2 separate regions of the Homo sapiens genome follow, and region 1 is linked to region 2. Evidence: fine-mapped expression QTL. A gene starts in region 2. The other region holds a variant in brackets. All regions are shown on one strand. Distances are between the middles of the regions. Region 1 has its middle 27 kb from the start of CSRP2. Region 2 holds the start of CSRP2 (cysteine and glycine rich protein 2).

The links. PIP is the estimated chance that this variant, and not a neighbour inherited with it, causes the effect.
Region 1: its variant is fine-mapped to the expression of CSRP2 in tibial artery (GTEx, PIP above 0.99). The same link has a PIP of 0.9 or more in spleen.

The regions. Positions count from the first base shown.
Region 1 is chr12:76,901,749-76,911,062 of GRCh38, reverse strand. No RefSeq gene overlaps it. Among named protein-coding and RNA genes, the nearest start is that of CSRP2, 27 kb to the right of the region's middle. The variant A/T (reference allele first, on the strand shown) is at 5,445.
Region 2 is chr12:76,874,809-76,884,122 of GRCh38, reverse strand. It overlaps CSRP2 (cysteine and glycine rich protein 2), which reads left to right and starts at 5,104. Exons shown (of 6, transcript NM_001321.3): 1 at 5,104-5,185. LOC124902971 (a long non-coding RNA gene) reads right to left here and starts at 5,764. Exons shown (of 2, transcript XR_007063380.1): 1 at 5,473-5,764; 2 at 2,658-4,235. RefSeq lists silencers at 4,835-4,884, 4,915-5,344 and an enhancer at 9,179-9,314.

The DNA.
Region 1 (9,314 bases), 27 kb before region 2:
CATATTTTGTTTGAATAACACAGTGGTTTAAGATTTTTTGAGCAGACATTAAAAATATATATAGACGCTTAACTGGCCTTTCATTAAAAATTGGAAAATCTGGCAACAATGGACATTATTTATTCTATCTTCCCTCTTTCTCTAGCTTCCTTCTCTATCTTTTTCCCTCTCATTCTTTCCTCAAACACTGATCCATTTCATTTATTTAGACTTCCTGACTGGCCCCATTGGGATATGAGTTTTCTACCCTTTCTGTAGGAACTCAGATCACAAGACTGGTAGTGTCTTTGTTTGGATTTCCTTTATTTACGTACAGTTTAAAAGGTTTTCCTGCTTCTGAGTTTTTGTCTTAATGTCAGTATAATATGACCAACTTAATAGTAATAGACTAGAATGATAGACATTCTTTAAACATGTACTAGCGATATAAATAGAAAAAGTACTTCCAGTCAGATGAAATCCACAGGGGGAAAAAAAAATAGAGAAAGTACAGAGAGTGAAGGCATTGGAAGGGTTCCAAACGGAAAAAAAAAATGTGTGTGTGTATATATATATATATATATATATATATATATATATATGTCACACAAATTAAGAAAAAATGTTAGGAAATATCACCAGCAGGCTCAGAAATCCAAAACCCATTAAAAATGAATCTATAGTTGAACACAACCTGAATTTCATTAAGCTTCTAATCTCGAGAAACAACTTTCTGGTGACTCCTCAAAACAGGGTGGTTAAAAAAAAATGTAATCTCATGTAACTGAATATTACATACAATAAACCAGTTAAATGCTGGGGAGAAAACTAACAAAAATGCAATCCCTGGTTATAGATCAAGAGTTCCCAAACTTGGAATTTCCTTGGATGCTTTAAAAAAAAACACTGAGGTCTAAATCCACTTCAAACATTTGCATTTAACTGGTGTGGAGTGTAGCCTGGACATTGGGACTCTTTAAAGTTCTTCGGGTGCTCCTAAAATGCCACATAATTTGAGAAGCATTGCTATAGACATTGCTTTGGTTATTACTAAATATTAGGGCTATTGCCTCTTAAAAAGCAATCATAGTTCCTGAGATTAAAGCAACCATCTACATATTCCCACTGTTTCAAAAAGTGTATCATGTCATTAAACTACAGATTTGAGAGAACAGGTCAGAAATCAAATCTTTTTACCCCAAAGGAAAATATTATCTAACTGTATCCAAAGAACTTCTATAATCCTACTTGAACAAGTTAATTCCTAGACTAGACCTTGATATCCTCATGTGTAAAATAGAGACAATAATTCCTACTTTATAAGGTTGTTCTATCAATTATATAAGATAATGCTTATGAACTGATAGTTGGTTCTTTTAATAACTATTTTTTATAAATCTGATATTCAGTGATTATAGTTTTTCCTTAAAGCCATAGCTAGTAACTCTAGCTAATATTAACCTCTCTCCTTTTTTACATTACAGCGCTCCAATTTCTTTTGTTTGTTTGTTTTTTCTTTTTGAGACAGAGTCTTGCTCTGTCACCCAGACTGGAAGTGCAGTGCCCCAGTCTCAGCCCACTGCAACCTCCACCCCCTGGGCTCAAGCAATCAGTGCTCAGCGATCCCAAAGTGCTCGGATTACAGGCGTGAGCCACCATGCCTGGCCTAGAGTGCTTGAATTTCAAATGCTTTATTTTATATTGTCTTTTAATTGCTTAATGACTTGTGGTCTGACTAGATAGACAAGAATTATTTGGAAAGAAGGGAGATTAAAAGGCCATTTATCAGCAATGATAAAAGCTGCTTGCTTCTCATACAATTTACTACAACATATTAGGTCGGTGCAAAAGTAATTGCAGTTTTTGCCACTAAAAGTAATATTTAGGTTGAGAGACTCGATCCTACAATTATGAGAAGAAACTAGCAATGAATTTGAAAGTAGCATCCAGAAAAGCCAATGGATCAGCAGTTGGGAGAGGACTGAGTCACATTTTCCTTTTTAAAGGTAGAATAAGCCATATTTTGTGAATTAGTTTTGTCTTGCAGCTGTTAATAAATTACCAGAAACTTGGTGGCTTAAACATACCAGTTTATTATCTTATAGTTCTGTGCATTAGAAGTCTGACATGGATCCCACTGGGCTGAGATCAAGGTGCCAACAGGGTGCATCCCTTTCTGAGGACTCAAGAGGAGAATCTGTTTCTTTGCCTTTTCCAGCTTCTAGAGTTCCGTCCCTAACTCTTGGCTCCCTCCATGAGTCTTCAGAGCTGGCAATGTCAAGCAGCGTCCTTATGCTACCAACTCTCTGGGTCTCTTTCCTGTTGTCACAAAAGGAGTCCCTCTGACTTCTTTTGTGTCTCCTCTTCCACTTTCATTGTTATTTATTTATATTTTTGAGACAGGGTCTTGCTCTGTCACCCAGGCTGAGTGCAGTAGTGTGATTATAGCTCACTGCAGCCTTGTCCTCCCGGGCTCAAGGAATCCTCCCACCTCAGCCTCTTAAGTAGCTAGGACCACAGGTGCACTACCATGCCTGGCTAATTTTTTTTAACATTTGTAGAGCCTGGGGGAGGGGGATGGTGAGGTGGGAGGAACAAGGGGCGGGAGATGGGGGAGAGCTCTTTGTTGCTCATGCTGGTCTTGAACTCCTGGTCTCAAGCGATCCCCCCAGCTTCAGCCTCCCAGAGCACTGGGATTACAGGGATGAGCCACTGCACCCGGCTCCTCTTCCACTTCTAAGGACCCTGTGATTACAATGTGCCCACCTATGTCAGAGACATCCTAACCAGAGTGATTTCACCTTGAATAAAAGCCAGATAAAGCAAGACCTGCTGGGTTACATTTCCAGGAAGTTAGGCGTTATTGATCACAAGATGTTTATGGTTGAGGAAACGAGCTAATGGGAAAAGGCATTCTTAGTTTAAAAATAGGTTTCCCTCTAAAGGTAATAGTATCCTCATAAATTCTTGCTAAAAGTAATAATTGCACAAGAGAATAGTAATACTAAGTCTGTCATAAGCTCAACACAACCTTTTGTAATAAAGTACACTATTCTTAGCCTTAATATCCCATGTAAGTAAGCCTTATGTCTGAGGTAGGGACATTCCTCCTCTTGCTTTCTCAGCAAGCCCTACTCTGTAATAGAGTATTTTCTAAGAAACTATTTTAACTTCACTATATTCTGAGACTCACTCTGAATTCTCTCCTATGTGAGATCCAAGAACTCACTCCTGTGGTCTGGGATGAGATCCCTTTTCTGGTAACACATAGGTAATCCAGGCTTCTCTCCCTACCTTAGCTGATTGGCAAACTTATTCCATCTTAATTCTCCTTTGCCATGTGACATATTTACATAACAACAACAATGGAAAGAGAAGTCAAACTTGACTGCCAATTACATATCAGTGATCATCTAATCTCTCAGGTCAGTGAAGACTCACTGTTATCCCAATTCCAGGGATTAGGATGTGGACATCTTTGGGGGCCCCTGAGAAGCTAAATAGGATCAATAGTTTATAAAGAAGTAACATCTAATACACAACAAATTAAGATAACAGTAACTCACTGAATCATGCACTCACAAGGCAACCATGCCTCTTCTCCTCTCTACTTAATTTATGGTAGACATTGCAAATCCACCAGGTAAAACTATAACCTCAGATCTTACACAGAGTATGCTAAGAATCACCAGTGAGTACAATTAATCAAATTGGCATGCAAACTAAAATCTATTTTCCATCCTAAATTTGAACAGTTGTGAGGGCAAGAGACTTTCTCTTAGGGGCATTTTTTGGAATAAGGTGATGATGTAACTTTTTAAAATTGGCAGACCAAAGGAATCCCAGCTGAGCTAAATACAGAGATTATAATAAGAAAATAAAATAAGTGAAATACTTCAACCATTGACAGAAATCTGTGTTTCAATGATCACCTGTAGAGAAGTCATTTGGTGGCCAAAAAAAATCTTCATGTATTTCTAGCCCTGCCCACACAACACAAAGCCTTCTCTTGAGATCTGTTATTATGCGCCTCTATTCTTCCTAAAAGGATATTTTGCTCAGAAATAGATTTGGATAGATGTGCATGTGTAGGTATTTTAAAGCTTATGTTACTCTAAAATAAAACTCTATGGCCTTTTACAAGTATTTTATATAAGTAATCTATGATCATGGTAGAGAAATTAGAAAAAAACAAAGAAGATAGAAAAAAAAAAAAAACTCACACATAATCCTATCTGCCAGAAATAAATTTTGGTGCTTATTCTGACAAATGTGTTTACATTTATTTATTCATTTGACATATTTATTGAGCCCTGTGCCAGGCATGATCCCAGGCCTTGAGAGTACAACATGAATAAAACAGAACAACAACAAAAAAAATCTATGCCCTCGATGAGCCCAATTATGTACAAAAAAGAACATTTTAAAAACCAAAAGTTATACCATATTTTGCATATCTGTAGTTTGTAATTGGCTTTTCCTATGTCCCAGGTTTTGGAAGTATCCCCCTAATTTTGTCAGGCTGTTGTGGTTTTCCCAGTAATCTTGACTGAACTGAGAGATGAGTTCTGACTGCTACATAATTAACAGTCCAGCCTGACTTCTCTTTCCATAGTTTGTTGCTATGTGATCAGAAGAAAATCTTCTCTCAAAAAAATCGAGAGTACTGTCTCTGAATTTCTTTAGACCACAAAGCCTACTCAGGGAATTAAATAGAACTTCATTTTATCTTATCCCAGTGTTAAAAGAAAAACTTTAGCTGAATTAAATTTAAAGGAGTTTGAGTAATGAACGACTCGCGAATCAGGCAGCCCCCAGAATCACAGCAGATTTACAGAGACTCCAGGGGTGCCTCGTGGTCAGAACAAATTTATAGACAAAAAATGTAATGTATAGAAATCAAAAGTGAAGTACAGAAACAGCTGGATTGGCTACAGGTTGGCGTTTGCCTTATTTAAACACAGTTTGAACACTCAGCAGCATATGAGTGGTTGAAGTACACTGCTGGAATTGGCCAAGACTCAGCTATTGTTACAGACGCATACTCCTATGCTAAGTTTTCAGTCTGTTAGGTTGCCGTTCATCCACAAGGACTCAAATATAAAATATGGAGTCCTGGCTGGGCACAGTGGCTCACGCCTATAACCCCAGCATTTTGGGAGGCCAAGGCAGGGGATCACCTGAGGTCAGGAGTTCGAGACCAGCCTGACCAACATGGTGAAACCCCATCTATACTAAAAATACAAAAATTAGCCAGGCGTGGTGGTGCACACCTGTAATCCCAGCTACTCGGGAGGCTGAGGCAGGAGTATCGCTTGAACCCGGGAGGTGAAAGTTGCAGTCAGCCGAGATCACGCTGCTGCACTCCAGCCTGGGCAACAAGAGCAAAACTCAGTCTCAAAAAAAAAAAAAAGAAAGAAAAGAAATATGGGGTCCTTTTCCAGCCGTATTTAGTTTGCTTTAAC[A/T]TCAGTTATTTATTGCTGCATAAAGCATCCCCCTAAACCTTAGGGGCTTACAACAACAATCATTTTTATTACTAATTCACAATTCTGGAGGTTTACTCAGTTCAGCAGGATAATTCGCTCTTGGATTTTTTTTCCCGTGCAGTTTGACAATTTCTGGTGCTAGAGTCATCTTGAAGGCTTCTTCACCCACAGGTCCTATTGATTCTGGCTATCATCTGGGATGTCAGTCAAAGTGGCAGTCTGGAACACCCACATCCAGCTATGTGGCTGAGCTTCCTCACAACATGGTGGTTGGGTTTTGAGATCAAGCGTCCAAAAGCACTAGACAGAGCTATATCACCTTTTCTGACTTAACCCCAGAAGTCATGTAGGGACACTTCTACCATGGTCACAAGCCTCTTAGATCAAGGAAAAGAAATAATAAATCCTATCCCCTTGATAGGAGGAGTATCAACATTACCCTGTAAGAGCGTATGGGATGGGATATAGTGTGTGACCATCCTTGGGAAATGGAATCTGTCACATATCTCAATCTCCTTACACCTTTAATATGTATGGTTAAAGTCAGTGGTAGCAAATTTCAGGGCCACTGTAAGTTTAAGAGAAAAGTTCTGTCACTATCGAGCCTTTCTAAAATAACACATCTCAAAGTTTCTGTTTAGTAAAAAAGAACTGACAATTGAATAGCCAGGTATTCTAATTCTAATATTTATCCCATGGATTAATGTGGAGAATTATTAGTTGATAAAAGCTTAATCAGGCTTTTTTTTCTCTTTAATTTGGAAAACTCACTCTGGAAAAGTGACCTATAGAGAATCAATCTTTCCTATATATGAAGCATGGGAAGCACTATTAATTAATTTTGGTATCCAAGGCTTCTAAGATTATAAGGTGCCAGGTGCGGTGGCTCATGCCTGTAATCCCAGCACTTTGGGAGGCCGAGGCCGGCCGGTCATGCGGTCAGGAGATCGAGACCATTCTGGCTAACGCAGTGAAACCCCGTCTCTACTAAGAATACAAAAATTAGCCTGGCGCGGTGGCGGACGCCTGTAGTCCCAGCTACTCGGGAGGCTGAGGCAGGAGAATGGCATGAACACAGGAGGCGGAGCTTGCAGTGAGCCGAGATCATGCCACTACACTCCAGCCTGGGAGACAGAGCGAGACTCTGTCTCAAAAACAAAACAAAAAAAAGGTGAATTAATCTTAATAGTGCTTCAATGTAATATTAAGAAAGCTGCCAAATGGGTTCTAGACATCTGTGGGATCTCTAGGTACATTGTTGGGAAGAGATAAACACATTAAATTATCATTTAAGTCTTACCAAAAAAAAAAAAACACATAAGAATTTAGAGGAACTATTTAATACAGGCTTGCTAAAACAAATCAACCTTCTTTTATTCAACAGTTAATGAACACCTATGATACATCTGGTACAAATACCAAGTACCCACAGTATACTAGCTGTATTAGTCTGTTTTCACGCTGCTGATAAAAGACATACCTGAGACTGGGCAATTCACAAAAGAAAGAGGTTTAATGGGCTCACAGTTCCACGTGGCTGGGGAGGCCTCACAATCATGGCAGAAGGCAAAAGGCACGTCAGGCATGGCGGCCAACAAGTAAAGAGAGCTTGTCCAAGGAAACTCCCCTTTATAAAACCATCAGAGCTCATGAGACTTATTCACTATCACAGGAACAGCATGGGAAAGACCTGCCCCCATGATTCAATTACCTCCCACTGGGTCCCTCCCACAACACGTGGGAATTCAAGATGAGATTTGGGTGAGGACATAGCCAAACCATATCACTAGCTATGTAGGATACACATAAAATAACGTAAAAATGATTGATCCTGTAGCATTTTTAATACTACAAATAAAATATTATTATAGTAAATACCATTATGAAGAAGGATTTTATATAATATATTTAATATCACAGCAGAATATCCACAACTGCAGTGTGCTATTGATCTTGTTACCAGAAAGAGGTCTTGATCCAGACCCCAAGAGAGGGTTTGTGGATCTCATGCAAGAAGGAATTTGGAGCGAGTCCACAGAGTAAGGTGCAAGTAAATTCGTTAAGAAAGTAAGGAAACAAAAGAATGGCTACTCCATAGGCAAAGCAACACTGAGGACTGCCGGTTGGCTATTTTTATGGTTATTTATTGATCATACGTTAAACAATTCATGAGTTTAGCGGAGCTGAGGGATTATTCATGAGTTTCCCAGAACTGAGGGTTCCTCACCTTTTTAGACTATATAGCGTAACTTCGGGAAATTGTCATGGCACTTGTAAACCGTCATGGCACTGATGGAAGTGCCATCTAGCATGCCAATGTATTATAATTAGCATATAATGAGCAATGAGGATGACCACAGGTCACTTGATTTTGGTGGGTTTTGGCTGGCTTCTTTACTGCATCCTGTTTTATCAGCAGGTTTTTTTTGTTTTGTTTTGTTTTGTTTTTTGAGACAGAGTTTTGTTCTTGTTGCCTGGGCTGGAGTGCAATGACATGATCTCGGCTTACTGGAACCTCTGCCTCCCAGGTTCAAGTGATTCTAGCACCTCAGTCTCCTGAGTAGCTGGGATTACAGGTGTGTGCCACCATGCCTGGCTAATTTTTGTATTTTTAGTGGAGACAGTGTTCCACCATGTTGGTCAGGCTGGTCTCAAACTCCTGACCTCAAGTGGTCCACCCACCTTGGCCTCCCAAAGTGCTGGGATTACAGGTGTGAGCCACTGTACCCTGCCTCAGCAGGGTCTTTATTATCTGTATCCTTTGATATCAGTCCTGCAGACCTCTTATCTCATCCTGTGACTAAGAATGCGTAACCTCCTAGGAATACAATTCAGCAGGTCTGAGCCTCATTTTACCCAGCACCTATTTAAGATGGGGTTGCCCTGGGCCGGGCGCGGCGGCTCACGCCTGTAATCCCAGCACTTTGGGAGGCCGAGATCATGAGGTCAGGAGATCGAGACCACGGTGAAACCCCGTCTCTACTAAAAAACACAAAAAATCAGCCGGGCGTTGTGGCGGGCGCCTGTAGTCCCAGTTACTCGGGAGGCTGAGGCAGGAGAATGGCGTGAACCCGGGAGGCGGAGCTTGCAGTAAGCCGAGATTGTGCCACTGCACTCCAGCCTGGGCGACAGAGTGAGACTCCATCTCAAAAAAAAAAAAAAAAAAAAAAAGGATAGGGTCGCTCTGGTTTGAACACCTCTGACAATCTGATTACAACGCACTCTTGTGTTGCAGAGTAAATACTTGTCCATGTCTCTTTTTTAAAAAAAGAATTACTCTACAGGTTTATAATTATTTCCTGTAGAGGGAAGAGTTAAGCTGGATGGTAGCTAAAAGCCACATATTTCTTTTGTCCTGCTGTCAAAGAAACACTTCCTTTCATGTTGTACAAATTCTCAAATCATCGCTCTAGAAGTTAACATAAAAAACAAAGAATTTCCTTCTGAGTTTAATCCTTTCTCCTTGTTACCACAAAGTCAATGAATGTGGTTTCCTTTCAACCTGTTTCTAACCATGTCTATTAAAACTGTTTCTTGTTTTAAAATTGTTTATATTCTCTAGAGTTCATTGTAATTGGAATTGAGTACCACAGTTTCCAACAACATCATGCATTAATTAATTGATAAAACCAGCCTAAGAAATCTGAGATTCCTGTGCATGACATACTCAACTTGGTAAACTTACTGGGTCATTTCACTTAGGAGGGAAAAAACAGGTGGAACAGACAAGAGAGAACTATGTCAGGAACTAGCAAAGGGAAGTCCTGTTTTGTTCCCTCTTTGTTTGGTTTTGTTTCTTGGGTTTTGATGCAGTTTTGGTTTAGTCTTGCTGGAGAAGAGGAAGGCTTT
Region 2 (9,314 bases):
AGCCAGGGCTGGAGTCATTTCAAAGCTTGACAGTACTGTACTGTAATATCTCCTTCCAAGCTCACTCATATTTTTGTTGGCAGAAGGCTTTAGCTCCTCTGGGACTGTTGGCCACAGGCCACTGTTCTTAACTGCTTGAGTGTCCTCCTGACATGGCAGCTGGCTTTCCCCATAGCAGTGATGAAACACACACACACACACACACACATGTTGGCAGGATGTTGGAGATGGGGGAGGATGGATAAAAGAAAAGGGTGGGGGAAGAATGAGGAAAAAGTTGTCACAAAGCGTTTTTTGACTTAGTCTCAAAATCATGCACTTCATTCTATTTTCTAGAAGCAAGGCACTAAATCTAGCCCGCACCCAAGGGTAAGGGCATGAATTAAATTCTACCTGTTGAAGGGGGGAGTAACAAAGAATCCATGGACATGATTTTAAGCCATCACAATCTGTTGGGAGTCCTAACTGCAAGTAACAGAAAATCCATCTCAAAATGGATTAAACAGCAATGGGGACTCATTGGCTCCCATAATGAAAAAGCCCTGCAGGTAGGTAAACTTGGTGAATACTTGTTCAGAGCTCTGTTTTCTCTGTCCTCTTGTCTGTGTCAAGTCATCCGTGGCCAGGTTCCTAGCAAAAATGACTGCAACCACTCTAAGGCCTCCTCCATGCACATAGCACATTCCAGAATAGGCTAGCTTGGCTCTGACTCCGCACCCCAGCAGAGTTCTGAGATTCACTCTAATTGGATGGGCTTAGGTCACGTGCTTACCATCCCCAAGCCGGGGCCTCAAATGCCTTGACTGGATCCAGTGCTCCACCCTGAAACAGGACCATGAACTCACATGCCTGAAACCACACAGAGAGGAATGGATGCTACAGAGGCAATCACAAATACCTACTACACGACTCAGGGATATTTATGTCAGCTTTTAAAAATACGGGGTGAGCAGAATTTTTGTCATTTGAAAGGAAAGAAAGCAATAGAGCCTGAAATTGAACAGCAAGGGAGTACAATCACGTGCCACATGAAGATTTTCAATCAACAACAGATCACAAATATGAGGGTGGTCCTGTAACACTACAATACTGTGTTTTTGCTGTACCTTTTCTATATTTAGATATGTTTAGATACACAAATACTATTGTGTTGCCATTGCCTGTGGTGTTCTGTACAGTCACATGCTGTACAGGTTTGTAGCCCATGAGCAATAGGCTATACCTTAGGCCATATGGTGTAGGTTTGTGTAAGTATACTCTACAATGTTGGCATAATGGTAAAATTGTCTCATGATGCATTCCTTAGAACCTGTTCCCATCACTAAGTGGCACATGACTGTATAACTAAAAAATGCCAAAGAAATGGATCAAAAGCCTAGGCAGAGTGGACACTGTTGGTAGGGAGTGGGAGAACCATTTGCTCCTCCAAGATCAGGGACAGCAAGTACAAACATAGGAGAAAACATGGAAGCTTCGAGGCAAAGTGGAGGAAGGTTGAGGAAATGTTGGTGACTGGCTGTGAATGTGAATGAAGGAGAAGAAGGTGATGTCACCAGCTGAAAAAGAGGGAGAAAAGTGAGATAAAGGAATTAAGGGGTTAAGATAAGATGGATAGAATATGCTGTCTGGGAAGTTAATGGTGTCTTTCTTACTAGTAGAACTAGAAAAACTCTGCTATAATATGAAAGCAGAAGCAGAGCTCAAAAAGATAGAAAGCTCTGGTTGAAAAGAAGAAATAAATAACATCATAATAGAAGATAATAGCACTGAATGAAAATAATGCCTACTGGAGAAAGAGAGTTAGGAAATGAAGCAAGTATAAGAAAGTAGGAGTTTATAGCAGGTTAAAAAAAGCAACTATGACAAATATCAAGAATAAGATACTCTAATCTACCTTCCAACATTTAAGCATATATCACTTACATTATTCTTTTCTCTGTCAGATAATAAATCACAGAGTATTAGGGTTAAGTATGAGTAATTTTTAATTCCCACAACTGCTGCTAAATCTTAGCTAAGAAATAAGGTAGAAAAACTGCTTCTTTTTGTGTTATTAAATGTGTAGGTTAGCAAAGTGCAAATTGTTTCCCTTTTTTTCATACTAAAATCATTATAATAAGACATTCCTCTTCACTATAGCTTTCTTGCCTTCTGGGAAGAAAGCCTTGCCCTAAAATAAAGAGGCTTTGTGTTTAAATTCACATTCATCTGATTCAGAGTTTTGTTAAGAAAAAGGGGCATGAAATAAAAATAATAAAAATATTTTTAAAATCTACGTTTGAAGCACAAGGTCATGACAAAAGGCAACAACCTTGGTTCAACTTGCCTTAGGACAGTGACCTTGAGAGAGGGCTTTGATTTGAAATTGGTTGATGAATTCCAGAGAATAGAGTTGTTACAAGTATAATACACATTTTGAGTGGGAAAAAGAAATAGCCTGCTGGACACATTTAACCTTTGATTCTGCCTATTACAAGGTTGAAGGGGTCAAACAGACTAGGACCATGTGGACTTAAGGGTTTATCCTTCTCCTTGAGGACACATTTTTCCCACTATCCTTCTGCAGGCGCGCAGATGCTTCCTACTGAAGACTCTTAATTGTTTTGGAAAACACTCCATACCTTCTTAATAGCAAGCCCTCAAGAAGGCAACATGAGTACTTAGCAAAGCACAATTTTATTTCTTTCTTGAGAGGCAAAAAGGACATCAAGATATCTTTGCTTAACATAACAACCATCAATTATTCAGTATTTACCATGTGCCAGGTGCTATGTTTGGCATTTTACATACATCACCCAATTTAATCCTCATAACAACACTACAAGATGTGTAGAATTATCTTTTTACAGATAAAGAAACAGATGCATAGAGGTCAAGTACTTAGCCCAAGCTTACAAAACTGATAGGTGGCAGAGCTGTATGTTGAAATCATGTGTGTTTGATTCCAAAGCCCATACTCTTTCTTTTGCACCACTCTGTCTAAAAACTCTTAAATAATTTCTTCATGTTCATAACTAAAAGAGTCAACAGTTTAAATAGATGTTTAAAGAAAATAAATATTTTTTAAATGTTGATAAATACAAATACAGATTTGTTCAAAATCACACGTTGTATATCATCTGCAGACTCAGTGTGAAGTACACGGAGACAAACACATACAGGGACAGACAGCAGAAACACTTTTAGGTCAGAAACAAGCCCAATTTCTTTTTTGTTTTGTTTTGTTTTTTTGAGACGGAGTCTCCCTCTGTCACTCAGGCTGGAGTGCATTGACGTGATCTCCACTCACTGCAACCTCCACCTCTCAGGTTCAAGTGATTCTCCTGCCTCAGCCTCCAAGTAGCTGGGATTACAGACATGTGCCACCACGCCCGGCCAACAAGCCCAATTTCAAATGATAAGACATGGCTATGGAATTTAGGGACAACATGAGCTTGACGGAAAGCAAACAGCTCAGGTTTGGGAGGCCCCTTCCACAAAGAGGCATTGAGAAGAACTCAGGGTAGGAGAGAAAGGGCAGTGGTTTGCTGCAGTGAGACTCACTGATACAGTTTCATTCAGTAGAAGCACTAGGCAAACTTATACAAGAAAAAATAAACATTGTAAGCAGCTGAGCTAAAGCGAATGTAGAATCTGAGGGACTGAATTTTCCTGTTGGCCCGTGAGTCAAGTCACTTACACTAGCTGATATCACTGAAATAAGGATTGCCCATATTTAGAAAAGCTCACAGCAGGCAAGAATGCTTTCCAGACTCCTGCCACAGTATCAGGAGATGTCAATCACCACTATGTGTTTTTGGACAGTACTTGGTGGACAGAGAACAAGGCAGCTATAATGAGTTTATCCTGGATTGGCCCCAGCATATAAAATAAAACAATAATAATATTATAAGTCGGTTCTGTACGTTGTCATGCGGATATGTGCTCCCTGCCCTCTCCCCAAGAGGGCATTTGGCAATGTCCAGAGACTTTTTGATTGTCACAACGTCGGGGGCAGGTTGCAACTGGCATCTAGTGGGTGGAGGCCTCCTACAATGCACAGGACAGCCCCCTACAATAAAGAATTATCCAGCCCAAGATGTCAATGGTGTGGAGGATGAGAAACTCTGGACCAGAGGAGGCAATAGCATTTATGGCATGAGGGGGTTTTGGTCACTGACTTTTTTGAACTCCCCACTCCGCAAGTATCAGTTCTCCGGGATCATTGCTTCTGGCAGGAGAGGTCATGAGGAGGCCTAGAATATGAACCAGATAGAGATTGCATTGTTTATTTTCCTTTTCATCTAAAACAATAAATCATCCTGTAGCTTAGGCATTAGGTCCCTTCGGATGTCACGGTATCCTTGTGCTTTTCTGACATCAACACATATAAATACAGGGCCTGTGGCGCCCGGGGTTTCTGCCTGGGTTTAGGTTTCTTCCCCCTCAGCATCGCGTGCTGTGCCCTGGTGGAGGGGAAGAGCGAAACACTTTGGGAATGGGGCGTTTTCGTAACGTCATTTATTTAGTCTAGATGAATTTTGCTCTTTAAGAATAAGAAGTTGTGGATTCCCAGAAGCTGGAAATCGGACGAGAGAATATGCGTTAACTAGGGAAGTTAATCACGTTGAGTTTACTGACAAGGACAAGGCAAGGGGGAGGTGGCGGAAAGCCCCGTTTGGCTGACTTTCTACTGCTGGAGCCTCCCGGCCCATGACTGTCTCCGCGAAGAGGGGGATCGGCGCTCGCGGTGGACAGGTCCGACGCAGGGCGGCGGGGGCCACTTTCCAGCGGGACCGTCCCGCCGCCGGGCCTCCCTGGAGGGGAAGGAAGTCCCTCTCCAAGTCCCAGTGGCTTTTGGAACTGCCGGGTCCCTTTGGGAGGGAGCGGTCCCGGGACGTGGGAAGATGCCGGGCGGGCGGGAAGCTGCAGGAAGAGGCGGGCCTCCTGCCTTTTGTCTCCTGGTGGCTAGCCCGGAGCGGGCAGAGGGCAGCCCGCCCGCTACACGCCCCAGCCCGGCAAGCGGCTCCGGGAATCCGGCGGGCGGGGCTGGGAGGAGGGCGGGGCGGACACAGGCCGCGCCCACCGAGCGCTCTTTAAAAGGCACCGGCGCGCGCTTCGCCTGGGATCTCGGACTCCCTGGACCCTCCCTCCAGCCCAGCCTCGCTAGCTCCGCCTGCGGTACGTGCTCCCGCCTCCGACTCAAGTGAGTAGGGGCGGTGGGGCGGTTCCGCGGCGCCGCCAACCCCGGGGCGGGAGTTGCAGGGGGTTTCCACCGCCTCCCGGGGTCGTGCTGTCGCCCGGCCGGCGCGCCCCGGTCTCCTCCGACATCCCCATCCCGGTCCGCATTTGTGCCCCTGCCAGCCTTCTCATCCCTGCGCCCCAGATTTTCTCTCTCTTATCCCCCAAACACACCTGCCCTTGTCCCCGAGGCCGTCCAGGCCATGCCCTGGGATCCCAGGCCCGCGGGGCAGGTAAATAATCTTATATGACCTTTAATTTCTCCATACTGGTTTCTCTGGGAGAGAGGCGGGTTGTGAGTTTCGCGTTTCTGCTAATCCGCCTCTTAGCAGCCGTCGGTCCCCTCGTCCAGCGGCAGGCTCTCTCTGGGGTGGGGGTCGGAGTCTCAGGGCCCCCTCTGCCCGGAGTGTGGTGAGCACCGAGGGCGACCTTACTGGGTTCTGTCCCCTAGGGGTGGAATGGGGCTTCTACATCCCCCCGAGCCCAGGGTACTGCTCCTGCCGCCGTACCGGGCTCCTGGCATCCCCATTGTTTGGTGGTGTCTGCCCACCCAGCACCGAACCCCTCTATGTTGAAGGAACAGCAGGGAATGTCAATCACTTACTCCTAGCTTTTTCCAGAACTTTCTACGATTCAGGTACAAAGAAGAATGCAAGAATGCTTGGTTGTGAAATTATGCGACAGGTCCTGCGAATCACATTCTGGGTTCTCCAGAGCCAGATTCAGGAGCTCCACGTAGGCACCCCCTGGGGGCGGGGGCGGGCTTTCTAAACCGGCGGATCCCTTTCCCCCTTCTAAGCCAGGACATTTGTTAAACGATTTTTACTTAAATGGCTACCCAAAATGTTTAACCTGTTTTATTTGCAGTCTGCAAACCAAGCACATTTTCCCTTTATAAATGCTTTTCGGTACAGAATTTTTTTTGGGGGGTGGGGGGGTGGGGCGGGGGCAGTTAGTAATTTTTTAACCCGGGCAGCGAAAATCGTCGTATTTAGTTCTTGACTTTTCCAATTAACCTGTTTTAAAACTCTCCTCATAAAATGCCAAGAATTCAAATAGGACAGCCACAAAGTTGGCTGTACTTTGACTCACGTTTTTCAAGAAAGAATTGGGTGATAGATTTTGAAAGGGAGAATCTAACATAGTTTCAGAACTGCATGCCAAGCTACAAAGAATGTTGTGAAGTACTAAGTGGTCTCCCCCAGTACTCCTGGGGTCATCGCTCTCGTCCATTGTCACTGATACTTTGTCAGTATTTCTCTGGGTCCTTTCTCCTCTGCATTGTAGTTTTCTTTGCTCTTTTGGTTCTGTGTTACCTTTGAGACCAGACCTGCATCACATGAGTCTTTGAAACTCACAGTGCTTGCTTGGGTACCTTGGACAATTGACTGAAAGAAGGAGCGAATAAGGTTGTGATTATAGGGAACAAAAATATAATTTGACTCACACAATAGGTATTTGTTTGCAGATTTGATCTAAAGTTCGTATCATAAATTTTTAATGCATTTCTCCGAATGTATTTAACAAATATTGATTGATACTGGTATAGGCTAAGTACTGTGCTGAAAGCAGTACTTGCTGGAGGCCTGTCCTGATGAAATTGCAAAATCACTTGGATTTGGGGGAGATTGAATTTTATCCTAAAACAGCAAGAATGTTGGTGTAGAGTAGAGGACAGCAATAAATGAGGAGTTTTAGAAGCCTGAGTCCAGAGGCAACTCTGACACTAAATTGCTATAGTGATCTGGGTCTCTAGGTTTTCTTCTTTGTCAAAAGTGAGGTGAATCAAATGAACCCCAAAAGGGAGCCCCCTATGGGAGAGGAGGCATGGCTGAAAGGGGGAGGAACGAAGCCAGGCAGGACCAAATTCACACCTCAACTCCAGTACCCATTGGTTTGATGCCCTTGGGCAAATTAACTTTACTCTTTGGCCTCAATACTTCATCATGTAAAATGGGTGTAGTGGCACATGCCTTGCAGGGTTGTCATAAGGCCTGTTGATACTTGTACAAAGCCCAGCCCAGCCTGGGAGTAGTTCCTTGTAATTAGACAAAGTTGTGCACTTGGTTGAATATATGTGGGAAAAGGCTATCAGTGAAAGTCTGTTTCAGGAGAGAGCTGGCTCACACCTGAAGAGCGTTTCCTAGACCTTGCCTGGAGGCCAGCTTTCTTCTCTGTGCAGATGTTCACAGGTTTCCTCAAGGCACCTTACCCTGACTGCCAGCATGCCATCCCTTGGGTTCTGTTGGGTGGGGATCCCCAGACACCTCTGGATCTTTGATTACCTAGGTGGGGTTTCTGACTTTTTATATCATGGCACTCCTGTGAGGCCTCCAGACCCCTTCTCAAAATGACGTAACATAAAGTATGTGGTACCAAGTTCCCCAACCCCCAGAATTAAAAGGAATTGTGGCCTTTGGGTTAAGAATCCTGAATTAAGGGAATATTTCTCAGTCTGGATAGTGGAGAAGCTGGGCACAATTTCTTTTTTTTATATTTTTTCCTTTTCAAATTCCTTTTTACCACAGGCACAATTTCTGATTGTTAAAAATTTTATTGTTGTAAGTCACAGAGGAAGAACTAATAGAAGTACATGGTGAATGATCTGGAAAGGATATCAGGTTCCTTGTTTTTTTGTTTACAATCTTATTGTGCCAACAATACTATTGTCTTCGACTAATAAGAACAGACACCATGTAATACATTAGGGCCAAATTACTTCCCAGTTCACTATAGGAAAGAGGGCTTCATGGTGGTTTCACAGTACTTCCAAAAGAAAATAAGCAGAGAGAATTGAATCCTCATCCAGCACACGGCAGTGCAGGAACTACTCAGCTTAAGAAGAACCTATGCCATAGCCATGGAGGTCGGTACTACATCTGTATTGCTACCAGGGGTTTAGTTTAGCAAAACATCAGTGAAATAATTTTGAATTGGAATTTTATTGGTATTCATTTTTAAGTTGAATTGATAATTTTATTTTGGTTTCACAGTTATGAGTCATTTAATAGCTCTATGCCTCAGTTTCCCCACTCATAAAATGAGAATAGTGGTAGTGCTTACTTTAGTTGTTATGAGGATTAAATGAGGTAATATAAACATAAGTAAAGCATATATTAAGCTTTATAGAAGTATTTGTAATTATTACCTGTCATGTGGCAGACACTATTCTAGGTGTTTTGCATATATTGTTTAATCTAAAAACTGCCTTATTGTATAAATAAGCATTGTCCCCATTTTTAAAATGAGAAAACTAGCAGATCAAATGAACAACCTGTGATCATTTGGCAAATAAACAAGAGTCTCAGCATATATATCTAGGTCTGATTCCATGAAAAAATCGTGCAAATATTAAATTGTTTGAATAATTAAATAACTTGTAGTTTTGCACAGATTGTGGATTGCTATGGCAGATGTTGGGGATCAGGGTTACTGAGCTTATAGCATAGTTGCATTTTAATTACAATATGGGATTTGGCAGATAGTGATTCAAATCTGTGTCGAATTTTGCTGCACTCTAAGTTGAAGACACGAGTGGTAGCAGAATACAGAAGTAGTAAGAATGGTGAGGCTGAGGTACACACAGGAGTGTTCACTAGATTAGAAGAGAGTTTTCCTTCAGTGGGGTTAGATTTAGGTTAGCAGAGAGGGGTAATAAAAAGCTTTTTGGTTGAAAGTAGCAGTTTGGGTGTGAGAGTGGTGCACAGAGACCACTTACTGACCGCTAGTTGGATGGAGAGGAAGGTGTGTAATTTGTGTGTGTAATTTGGTAACTCAAGGATTGAGAATTCTCAGGTCATTTGAATAGTCTCAACCCTTAATGTTCTGTGCCTGTCAGATATGGGAGTTTTGAGGAAAGCTTGTGGTTCTGGAATCAAAACATGAGCCTGATTTGTTTCTTTGGAGATCTGTGACCTCAGCAAGTCACCCAACTCATCAGTCCCCATCCTTTTTGGCACCAGGGACCAGTTTTGTGGAAGACAGTTTTTTCATGGATGGTGGGTGGATGGTTTTGGCATGAAATTTTGGGATGAAACTGTTCCATCTCAGATCACCAGGCATTAGATTCTCGTAACGAGTGGGCACCTAGATCC